Regions from separate parts of the Homo sapiens genome. Here region 1 is linked to region 2. Evidence: fine-mapped expression QTL. A gene starts in region 2. The other region holds a variant in brackets. All regions are shown on one strand. Distances are from middle to middle. Region 1 overlaps CHCHD5 (coiled-coil-helix-coiled-coil-helix domain containing 5). Region 2 holds the start of POLR1B (RNA polymerase I subunit B).

Region 1 (5,375 bases), 47 kb after region 2:
CTTCCCTAGGCTGACTTCATCTGCCTCCTGCCTCACCCTCTCTCTTCTTTCTCACTACTCCTCATCTGCAACTGCAGAGGGGCTGGGCTGGGGTGGCCAAAAAAAGGTCACTCTTTTAAATGTATCTAATATGTAAACCAGATATACAGTATATCTGTGATATGTAAGTTTCATGGTTGGGCAATTAGAACAAAAGTCTAAAATGACTCCTTGAGGAGAGGCAGTAACGGAAAAAGGTTGAAAAATGCTCTTTTAGATGTTTACTACCCTCCTCACTGGACTGTGAGCTCCAAAGGTGAAAGTCACATCTTTCCCCAGCCCCTGTGAGTACCCTCTCCTGGGGCCCTCTCTCTGCCCCTGCAGCCCTGGCTTCTCTCTTGGGCCACCTGGCCATCCTTCTCCTGGGCCCCATGCTCCATCTTGACTTTCCAGTCATTCTTGGTGATCATCCTAGACTGATCTCAGAGGAAATCTGACCATGTTCTGCTTCTACTTACAAACCTTTCCATGGTTCTCAATTCCACCAGCCCAAGTCTTAATGCCAGCACAGCCCACAGGGCCCTGTGGGATGCAGTCCCTGCGACCCGTGGTCCCACCTCTCCTCTCTTTCCCCCTTAAGCTCTATGTTCCAGCCCCAGTGAACATGCAGTTACTCAAGTGCACGTCTCCGCTGCTTTTGTCCAGCTGTTTCCCTCTGCTGGGACTGCCCTTCCTAATCCATCTCCTGGCTAATTCCTATTCCAGCTTAGACGGCACGTCTCTCAGAAAACCTCCCTGATGTCCCACCCACTTCCCGCCCCTGTCTTCAAGTTCCCAAGGTCCCTGAGCCCCTCCATCAAGGCTCACATCCTATGCCTGTGTCAAGGGAGCTCTTGGCTGAAGATTGGGGTGATGCCCTTCTTACCAGGCCCTATAGGCATTAATTGTTTCTGTAAGGCAAGGATAAGTGAATAGTTCAGACCCCTAGGGCAGAAACTACGACCCCTGAGAGCCGGAAGGAACTTAATTCTCCTCAGGAAACGTTACCTAACGATCACATACTGTTCTCAGTCAGCTGCTGGGGACATTTCTGTCTTTCAAGTTTTTTGGGCATCTGAACAGTAAAGACCCCATCCTCCTATCTTAGAGCCATTTGCTGCTTCCCTCCCTGGACCAGCAACCAGCCTCTCTCTGGTCTCCTTGTGGCCACCCCTGCCCTGACAGTCTTCTCTTCCCTGGCAGCCAAAGAAGCTTTTAAAAATGGGAATTAGGGCCGGGTGCGGTGGCACATGCCTGTAATCCCAGCACTTGGGGAGGCCGAGGTGGGTGGATCACCTGAGGTCAGGAGTTTGAGACCAGCCTGGCCAACATGGTGAAACCCCATCTCTACTAAAAATACAAATATTAGCCAGGTGTGGTGGCAGGTACCTGTAATCCCAGCTACTTGGGAGGCTGAGGCAGGAGAATTGCTTGAACCCAGGAGGCAGAGGTTGCAGTGAGCCAAGATTGCACCATTGCACTCTAGCCTGGGCGATAGAGCGAGACTCTGTCTTCCAAAAAAAAAAAAAAAAGGGAATTAGGTCACATCTCCTCATCATCCCCTCCTTCCTGGGGATGGCATCCCAGTTACAGTTTTTCCTTCCTAGCTAGGGGCAGTGAGATTTGTTGTCTGGTCTACACAATAGCGAACACAAACATTCTCATCTCCTGCAGCATGGCATACAGACTTTACAGAATGTCCTGTGTTTTTGTGGCTGACAATCAAAGTGGTACATGTCCCTCCCATTCCGCACACACCTCTGCTCTTTACCCTGATTAAATTTTCTTCATCGAATTTCTTGGATGTTGACATATTTATTGTCCGTCTCTCCCTGCTTGAGTCAGAGAGTTTTGCCTGCTGGGTACACGGCAGGTGCTCAGTAAATATAGCAGAATGGCGCGTTCCCTGCCTCCCATGACACTTCACCACAGCTGACTTTTTCACATGGCTCAGGGCCAAGGTCATTGCCCAACACCCTTCTCCCTCCAGACTGTGGGCTCTGCAGGGTCTCCCTCTGTGGTGTCTACATAGGCTCCCCAGGCTGGGCACAGAGGAGGTGCTACTAGATGTTGATGTACTTTCTCCACAGGCACAGCCACTTCCTGCCTCCTGAGGACTCCTCTGACGGCAGGAAAACTGGACATGAATGACTGCCCCCACGCCCCTCCCCTGCAGAGTGGCCAGATGGAGTCCTGAGCCCTGGACATGGGCCCGGCTTTCCTGGATATCAGGACTTCCAATAAATAAAGACTCTGTATACTGGGCTTTGATTCCTGCCATCCGTACCTGAGAGGGTCCTAGGAGAGCTGGCTGGGCAGAGTCATCTGTTCCCCAGCTTCACCGGGTGTGCCAAGGAAGTGCCTGGGAAGAACAGGACTCTGCAGCTGTGCCCCAGGGTTGAGACTACCCTGCCTCCCTTGTGAACTCTGCCACACAGCCATTTCCTGACTTCTGCTGCATGTGCCTGGGGTAAAGACCCTCAATCCCTTCCACTCTAGCATTCCCCAAATTGTTATTTTTTTTTAATATATATATTTTTTATTTTATTTTTATTTTTATTTTTTTTTGAGACAGAGTCTCGCTGTCGCCCAGGTTGGAGTGCAGTGGCACGATCTCGGCTCACTGTAGGCTCCGCCCCCCGGGGTTCGTGCCATTCTCCTGCCTCAGCCTCCCTAGTAGCTGGGACTACAGGCGCCCGCCACCTCGCC[T/C]GGCTAATTTTTTTTTTTTTTTTTTTTAGTAGAGACAGGGTTTCACCGTGTTAGCCAGGATGGTCTCGATCTCCTGACCTCGTGATCTGCCCACCTCGGCCTCCCAAATTGCTGGGATTACAGGCGTGAGCCACCACGCGCAGCCTATATATATATTTTAAAGACAACGTCTTGCTCTGTTGCCCAGGCTGGAGTACAGTGGTGCGATAATAGCTTACTGCAGCCTCGAACTCCTGGGCTCCAGTGATCCTCTGCCTCAGCCTCCACAGTAGCTAGCACTACCGTAAGCACTTGACACAGTGCCTGGCTGCATTCTCCAAATCTGTTTTCAGTTTTCTGGAGGCTTGGGGGGTGATAAATAATATGCGTCTTTCCCTGCTGAATTCAGAATCAACTGGGCAACAGAGGCATTAGGCAATGGAGATGAAAATACTGGCTTTATTATTGAAAACAACCACATGGAAGGATGTATGGCTTAGAAGGCCATGTACTGGATTTCTTTTCTTTCTTTCTTCTTTTTTTTTTTTTTTTTTCAAGACGGAGTTTCACTCTTGTTGCCCAGGCTGGAGTGCAATGGCGTGATCTCGGCTCACTGCAACCTCTGCCTCCTGAGTTCAAGCAATTCTCCTGCCTCAGCCTCCTGAGTAGCTGGGATTACAGATATCCGCCACCATGCCTGGCTAATTTTTGTATTTCTAGTAGAGATGGGGTTTCACCATGTTGGTCAGGCTGGTCTCAAACTCCTGACCTCAGGTGATCTGCCCGCCTCAGCCTCCCGAAGTGCTGGGATTACAGGCACCGGCCGCCATGCCCGGCTAATTTTTGTATTTCTAGTAGAGACGGGGTTTCACCATGTTGGTCAGGCTGGTCTGTAACTCCTGACCTCAGGTGATCTGCCCACCTCAGCCTCCCAAAGTGCTGGGATTATAGGTGTGAGCCACCGCTTCTGGTCTATGCACTGGATTTCTGTTCTTAGTTTCCAGTTTTCCAGAAGCCAACTCAGAATTTGAGTGCAGATGGTAATTTGAATTTGATTCCAGAAACACTGATAGAGGAATGGAGAAGGGAGACAATAGAGAGGAAGGCAGCCAATAAAAGGTGCATTATCAAGCGAGTTACCACTCTGGGCAACTGGGACTCAGTCCCACTGGGGACCTGTGGGGGACTTTATAGAACATAACCCAGTTACCCTATCAAGGAGCAAGGGAATTGTGTTATCTACCAACTTCCCATCTGTCATTAAGGGGTATTTTCATGGGCATTGACTGGTACTTCTGGCCTGCCCTTTATAGGCCAAGTTCACTTCTGCCATCAGAAGAGGGCCGTAAGCAGAGTATAATGGGATCAAGTGAGCAGCCTTAAACCTGCGGAAGAGATGCTGAGTGGATCTGGGCAGGTACCAACAGTGGCTGCTGTGGCTTCTTCATGCTTCTCAGGAATACAGGCTCCTGCTGTTTGATACAGGCTCCCCAGTAGGGACTGGTCCTAAAGAATAGAAAGCAGACAGGCGTGTATGCAATAGAGGAGGAGACCCCAGAGTGCTGAGCTGAGCATGCCCATGGCCTGCACCCACATTCACCATTCAGACGAGGCCCTCCTCCCTGGAGGTGATCCCAAACCTCTGGAAATTGGAGTAACTGGCCATTTGATACCCAAGGATTATGCTCGGCTTGGAAGAATGAGCCTGGCCTATGGGAGTCTCTCCTAGGGATTAATCTCCAAGACAAAGGAAGTTGTTCATTGGTTTAGGAGCCGGGTAGAAATCCTGTAAGTTCAGGGTTGCAAGATTTTATACCATTTGTCTGAGCTAGGAGGAAACCCAGGTAGTGGAGAGAGAATTGTGATCAGTTCCTGTAACCTGCCACAATCCCTGGTGGACTGAAGAAAGGGTGGCGAATGCAGGAATAAAAGACAAGAGACAAAAGAGTATATTTGGAAGAAGGGGTCAGGGGGCACCTTGCCTCTAGTGGACAAGGGCCCTGAGCTTTACACAGCTTTCTGTATTTATTAGGCAAAAGAGATAGCGAGAAGGCAGGTAGAAGAAGAGGTCAGCTTGTCCAGAGTAGGCTTGCAAGACTGCATTCCCTAGATGTCGCAGTAGATAACCTCAAGGAGCTCGGCGCCAGGAAGCGACTGCCCTCATCAAACCTTCTGGGGCAGGCACAGAAGTGAGTTTGTCCACATTCTGTATTAATGGTAAACAGTTTGCTGTTTGATCATATAGCCCCAGTGGAATGCTGAGTTGGTCACATCCCACAGGCCTTTGGCTCCCTGCAAGTTCCTGTCCCTGAAAGGGTCTGGATCCTGGTGGCTTTTTGTTTCCATCTCTAGTTTCCATGGGCTGTGGTGGATGTTTTCAGCCCACTCCACTTGCTTGAGTAAGCTTGAGTGGGGTTCTATGCCATGCAACTAAAAGAAGTGTGATTAAAACAGACAAAATGGAGATCCAGACTACACTTTAGAACATCTCTATGTGTCCTGTCTTACAATAGGCTAGACTAGCTTCTTTATATGATGGTCTCAGGGGTCCAAGAGAGTGAAAATGGAAACTTCAGACATCACTTTTACCACATTCTATTGGTCAAAGCAGTCATGAGCCCAGCTGAGATTAAAGAGATGGGGAGACTTTACTTCTTGATAGCATTTGG
Region 2 (5,375 bases):
AACAAAAGTTCATTTCTACACCAAATACTACAAAACATCTCTGAAAGAAATTAAAGAACACCTAAATAAATGGAAAGACATCCCATGTTTATGGATTGGGAGATAATTATTGTTAGGATGAAAATAGGCCCCAAATTGATCTACCAATTGAACACAATCCTGATCAAGAATCTCAGCCTTCTTTGCAGAAATTGACAAGCTGGGCCGGGTGTGGTGGCTCACACCTGTAATCCCAGCACTTTGGGCGGCCAAGGCAGATGGATTACTTGAGGTCAGGAATTCAAGACCAGCTTGGCCAACATGGTAAAACCCTGTCTCTATTAAAAATACAAAATTAGCCAGGCATGGTGGTGCATGCCTGTAATCTCAGCTATTTGGGAGGCTGAGGCAGGAGGTAGAGGTTGCAGTGAGCCAAGATCATGCCACTGCACTCCATCCTCAGCAACAAGAGCAAAACTCTGTCTCAAAAAAACAAAAAACAAAAAAAAAAAAAAAAGAGAAAGAAATTGACAAGCTAAGCTGACGCTAAAATCCATATTGAAATACAAAGGATCAAATAAATCTGGAGAAAGAAGAACAAAGTTGGAGGATGTGCACTTCCTGATTTCAAAATTTATTACAAAGCTGTATTAATCAAATCTGTGTAGTTTGTAGACAGATATACAGATAAATGTAGATAGACATACAGATCAAGAGAATAGAACTGAGAGTCAAAAATAAACCCTTGCATCTATAGTGAACTGATTTTCGACAAGGAGGCCAAGACAATTTGATGAGGGAAAGAATAGTCTTTTTAACAAATGGTGTTAGGACAACTGGATATCCACATGCAAAGGAATAAAGTGATATGCCTTTCTCACACCATATACAAAAATTAGCTCAGAATGAGTCAAAGACTTAAATGTAAGAGTTGAAACTACAAAACTCTTAGTAGAAAATATAGGTGAAAATCCCCATGATTGAAAAATATCTAGTATTTGATAGCACAACAGGGTGACTGCAGTCAGCAATAATTTGTTGTACCTTCAAAAATAACTGAGGAAGTACAATTGGAATGTTCATGACAGAAATGATGAATGCTTGAGGTGATGGAAACCCCATCTACCCTCCTGTGATGATTACATCGTATGCCTATATGAAAACATCTCATATACCTCATAAATATGCTAATTATGTACCCATAAATTTTTTTTTAAATCCTCATGACCTTGGATTACACAATGATGTCTTAGATATGATATAAAAAGACAGGCAACAAAAGAAAAAAACTACACTTCAAAATTAAAACGTTTTGCTTCAAAGGACACCAGCAAGAAAGTAAAAACCCACAGAATGGGAGAAAAATATTTGCAAATCATGGATCTGACAAGGACTAGTATAGGCTATATAAAGAACTACAACTACTCAGTTGGCCGGGCGCGCGCGGTGGCTCATGCCTGTAATCCCAGCATTTAGGGAGGCAAGGCGAGAGGATCACTAGAGGCCGGAAGTTCAAGACCAGCCTGTGCAACAGACTCCCGGCTCGAATTTTTTATAAAAAGTGATATAGGAATGAAAAGTACCAGCTGAACTAGGAAAGGGGAAGTTGACAGTAAGGAGGGACTATCAGGGGCAGGAGGATACTGGGTAGTGGTGGTTTAATTCATTGTTTTAATTGTGGTGATGGCTGCATGGTTGTATACATAGGTCAAAACTTAACGCGTACACTTTAAATGTGTGGTTTATTGTATGCCAGTTATAACGCAATATAGCTGTTAAACACAAACACAATAAAGTTGAAAAACCAGCAGGCATTCCCTGATTAATCAGTATTCTGGGGAGGTAAGGGGCTCACAGGAACGCAAAAGAAATTCAGGCTGTAAATCCAGTTGGACGCCCCGCTGCCCCATCCCCTCCATCCGGGACCGCCCGACTCCTCTCCCACCTCCTTCCCCAGGCCTCCCCCAGGCCTCCAGTCCGGAAGATGCGACGAGGTTAGCGGGGCCCGACCACTCCTTGGCTTCCCAGGGGTGAGCCTCGCGAGTTAGGAGTTGGGTAGAGAGTCAGCCCGGGGCCCGGCATCCGCTTTTTCGTTGAAGCAACGACTTTGGCCGGATGACTCCCCAGGGTCGGCATCAGCGTGGGACTGGGAACAGGTGAAGGGAAACAGAAGAGAGCCTGAGAAGACCGCTCTCCTCCGATCCTAATTGACTGAGCCAATGAGAGCCAAAGAGGTCACATGCTCAACTGGGCGGGGAGCGGGTTTCCACCTGCGGCATCTTTCGCGAGCGGGGAGATGAGTGGGGCGGAATATGGGAGAAAGGGAGGGCCCGCCACGCTCTGGCTGGACACGGCCTTAATCGGCCCGTTCACTCGACGTTTTTGGTTCTACGTTGACCCCGAGAAACCGAAACCGCAGGGCCTAGGGCGGGTGGAACGAGAGGGAACTACATTTCCCAGCAGGCTGCGGAAACGGGACTGCGGCCACTACTTCCGGCGTGTACCGAGAGACTGGCGTCCGGCGTGTACCGAGAGACTGGCGTCCGGTGTGCAGGTGGCCACATGGATCCTGGCAGCCGGTGGCGGAACCTGCCCAGCGGGCCTAGCCTAAAGCACTTGACTGACCCCTCTTATGGAATCCCGCGGGAACAGCAAAAGGCAGCGTTGCAGGAGCTGACGCGGGCGCACGTGGAGTCCTTCAACTACGCTGTGCACGAGGGTCTCGGCCTCGCGGTGCAGGTGAGCGCGGCGTCCGCCGGCGCCCTTGCCGCGGCGAGGCCAATCCCAGGGAGGTGGCTGGGAGGTCACAGTATGACCCCAGATGCATGTGCTCCTTGATCCTGACAGGCTTGGTGGGTAAGCGGGAGAGCACAACATGTTAAACAGGACGCGGTACTGGCCTTCGTGAGACTTGGAGTCGAGGCGTCTTAAGAGATGTATTCGTGATTCTGGAGTGAAAAGTGATTGTGAACCGTAGTTTGGACAGTTTCGGGGTGCTGTGAGAGTGAGGAAGTGGCTTATCTGGGGATGTGCTTCACAATGCACACGGCTTTATATCACTTGAAGACTTACCTCTCCAAAACGTACCTCGAAAGATCCCGAACGTATTTGTAGGTACAGTGTAATGTTCAAGGTTATCCTTCAGTTTCCTTCTCTTAGAGCTTTAAAGAGAGAAACTACTCGTCATTTGTTATGAATTAAGCAGGTGCCGAGGAAGGTATAAATGAGTCATGAAAGCAAGATTGAATCGAAAAGTGTAATTGCATTATTAGCGTAGAGTAATGGTAGCAGAATTCAAGTGAGTATGGTGGGGGAAAGCTTCGTTTAGTAAGCATCCCCAGTGTCTCCAGGCACTAGGCTCAGAGGATGTGGAGGAGGCAGTCCCGTGTACGAGACAGTTCATGCATTTAAGTGCTCCCTGTCGTGTTTGGGGGTTGAAGGGGTGAAGATAATGAAAGCAGTGCATGCCAATGTTCTTGAGAACTGCTCTGCCAAGGGATTGTGTGGGCTACTGCGGGAGCCTATGGGCGGCGCAACTAATCCAGGAGTTTGAGAAAGGGCAGGATTAGATGAGTTCAAGAAGTGAGAAACGTGCATTTCGTCCAGGGGAAGAGTAGAGCAGAGTCACATGCTTCGGGGACCCTACCTGTGGTTTTGTTGGGTAAGATTTGTGTTGTGGGAGATAGGGATACAGATAATGTGGAGAGCTTTGATTGCCAGTCTGATTCTTGAACTCTATTCGGCAAATAATATGGGAGCCATTAAGATTTATTGTTTAGAAAGACTAGAGGGGTGGGGGTTATTTGTATTGTGCCTGGATTGTTACAGTATCATGTCTGTGAGAAAAAATTCCTAATTAAAAGTTAATCGGGCTGGGTGCAGTGGCTCACACCTGTAATCCAGGACTTTGGGAGGCCAAGGCAGAAGGATGACTTGAGCCCAGGATTTCAAGACCAGCTTGGATAACATAGTGAAACCCCATCTCCACAAAAATTTAAAAATTAGTGGGGCATGGTGGTGCGCACCCAAGTAGCTGGTCCCAGCTACTCGGGAGGCTGAGGTGGGAGGATAAGTTGAACCCAGGAATTTGAGGCTGCAATGAGCTATGATTGTGCCGCTGCACTCCATCCTCGGTAACAGAGTGAGACCTGTCTTTAAAAAAAAAAAATCCAATTGAGAAATTTTAGAAAAGCACTAATTTAAAAATAAGCCAGTCGGCTGGGTGTGGTGGCTCTTGACTGTAATCCCTGCACTTTGGGAGGTCAAGGCGGGTGGATCACTTGAGGTCAGGAGTTCCAGACCAGCCTGGCCAACCTGGTGAAACCCCATCTCTACTAAAAAATACAAAAATTAGCCGGGCATGGTGGCACATGTCTGTAATCCCAGCTACTCAGGAGGCTGAGGCACGAGAATCGCTTGAACCTGGGAGGCGGAGGTTGCAGTGAGCCAAGATTGCACCACTGCATTCCAGCCTGGGTGACAGAGTGAGACTCTCCCAAAAAAATAAATACATAAATAAATAAACCAATTATATGTTAACATTTTTAAGAAAAATATTTTCCAAAGCAAAAAAGAAGTTAGATGAATTGCATTATTAAAAATCTTTTTAATGTCTGGCTTAATGAAAAGACAGCTGGATTCTCATGTCTGCTTGTGCATTCAGTCCCTTGTGATAATTGTTTTGGTTGAAGTAGATGAAGAAAATTTGGCCCTGCATAGAAAATGATGCCACAACTTAGCTAGGACTATAATAATATAGTATTTGAAAAAGTTCTGTAAAACACAGTAACATAAATAACTAATACTTATAAAGCCAAGGGAAAAAATAGTTATCATATTTTTTACTTACAAAACATAATTTTGCCAAGTTTCTTTGGAGTGAATTCCTCCTTTCTGTGAGTCAGAATTTATGTGTCTGTCTTTTCAAAATACAATTGATTTTTATTACTTGGGGATTCCATATTTGCAAATTCACCTACTCACTAAAATTTACTTCTACTCCAAAAGCACCATGCCCAGAAGCAGCAAAAAAGTTGAGTTGCTCAGTGTCCATTTTCCCAGCTGAGATCTAACAAGGTGATGCTCGGCCTTCTTGTTTTAAGTTCTTAAACTATAAACAGAGGTTGTCTTCACTATCTATTTAGTGCCGTGTTTTGTGCTTTTTGTTGGTGATTTTGCTGTTTAAAATGTCCCCCAAGCAAAGTATTAAAGTATTAAAGTTCTGTATAAAGTTCCTAAGCACAAGAAGGCTGTGCTGTGCCTTTAGGGGAAAATATTAATACATGCATTTAACATAGGCTTTGTTCAGGCATGCGTTAGGGACTCAATAATATATATTAGATAAGCTGTCCTTAAACAGAAACCCACATAATGCAAGGTTGTGTATTGATCAGTGG

The links. PIP is the estimated chance that this variant, and not a neighbour inherited with it, causes the effect. A credible set is the group of variants that fine-mapping cannot tell apart.
Region 1: its variant is the best candidate, but not a certain one, in a credible set for the expression of POLR1B in testis (GTEx, PIP 0.75).

Annotation. Positions count from the first base shown.
Region 1 is chr2:112,586,758-112,592,132 of GRCh38, forward strand. CHCHD5 (coiled-coil-helix-coiled-coil-helix domain containing 5) reads left to right here. Exons shown (of 4, transcript NM_032309.4): 4 at 2,109-2,283. The coding sequence ends at 2,132. Among named protein-coding and RNA genes, the nearest start is that of CHCHD5, 4.8 kb to the left of the region's middle. The variant T/C (reference allele first, on the strand shown) is at 2,728.
Region 2 is chr2:112,539,954-112,545,328 of GRCh38, forward strand. POLR1B (RNA polymerase I subunit B) reads left to right here and starts at 2,512. Exons shown (of 15, transcript NM_019014.6): 1 at 2,512-2,718. The coding sequence starts at 2,542. TTL (tubulin tyrosine ligase) reads left to right here. Exons shown (of 7, transcript NM_153712.5): 7 at 1-1,786. It overlaps LOC105373562 (a long non-coding RNA gene), which reads right to left and starts at 2,259. Exons shown (of 2, transcript NR_136321.1): 1 at 2,250-2,259; 2 at 1,703-2,125. RefSeq lists an enhancer at 2,395-2,544.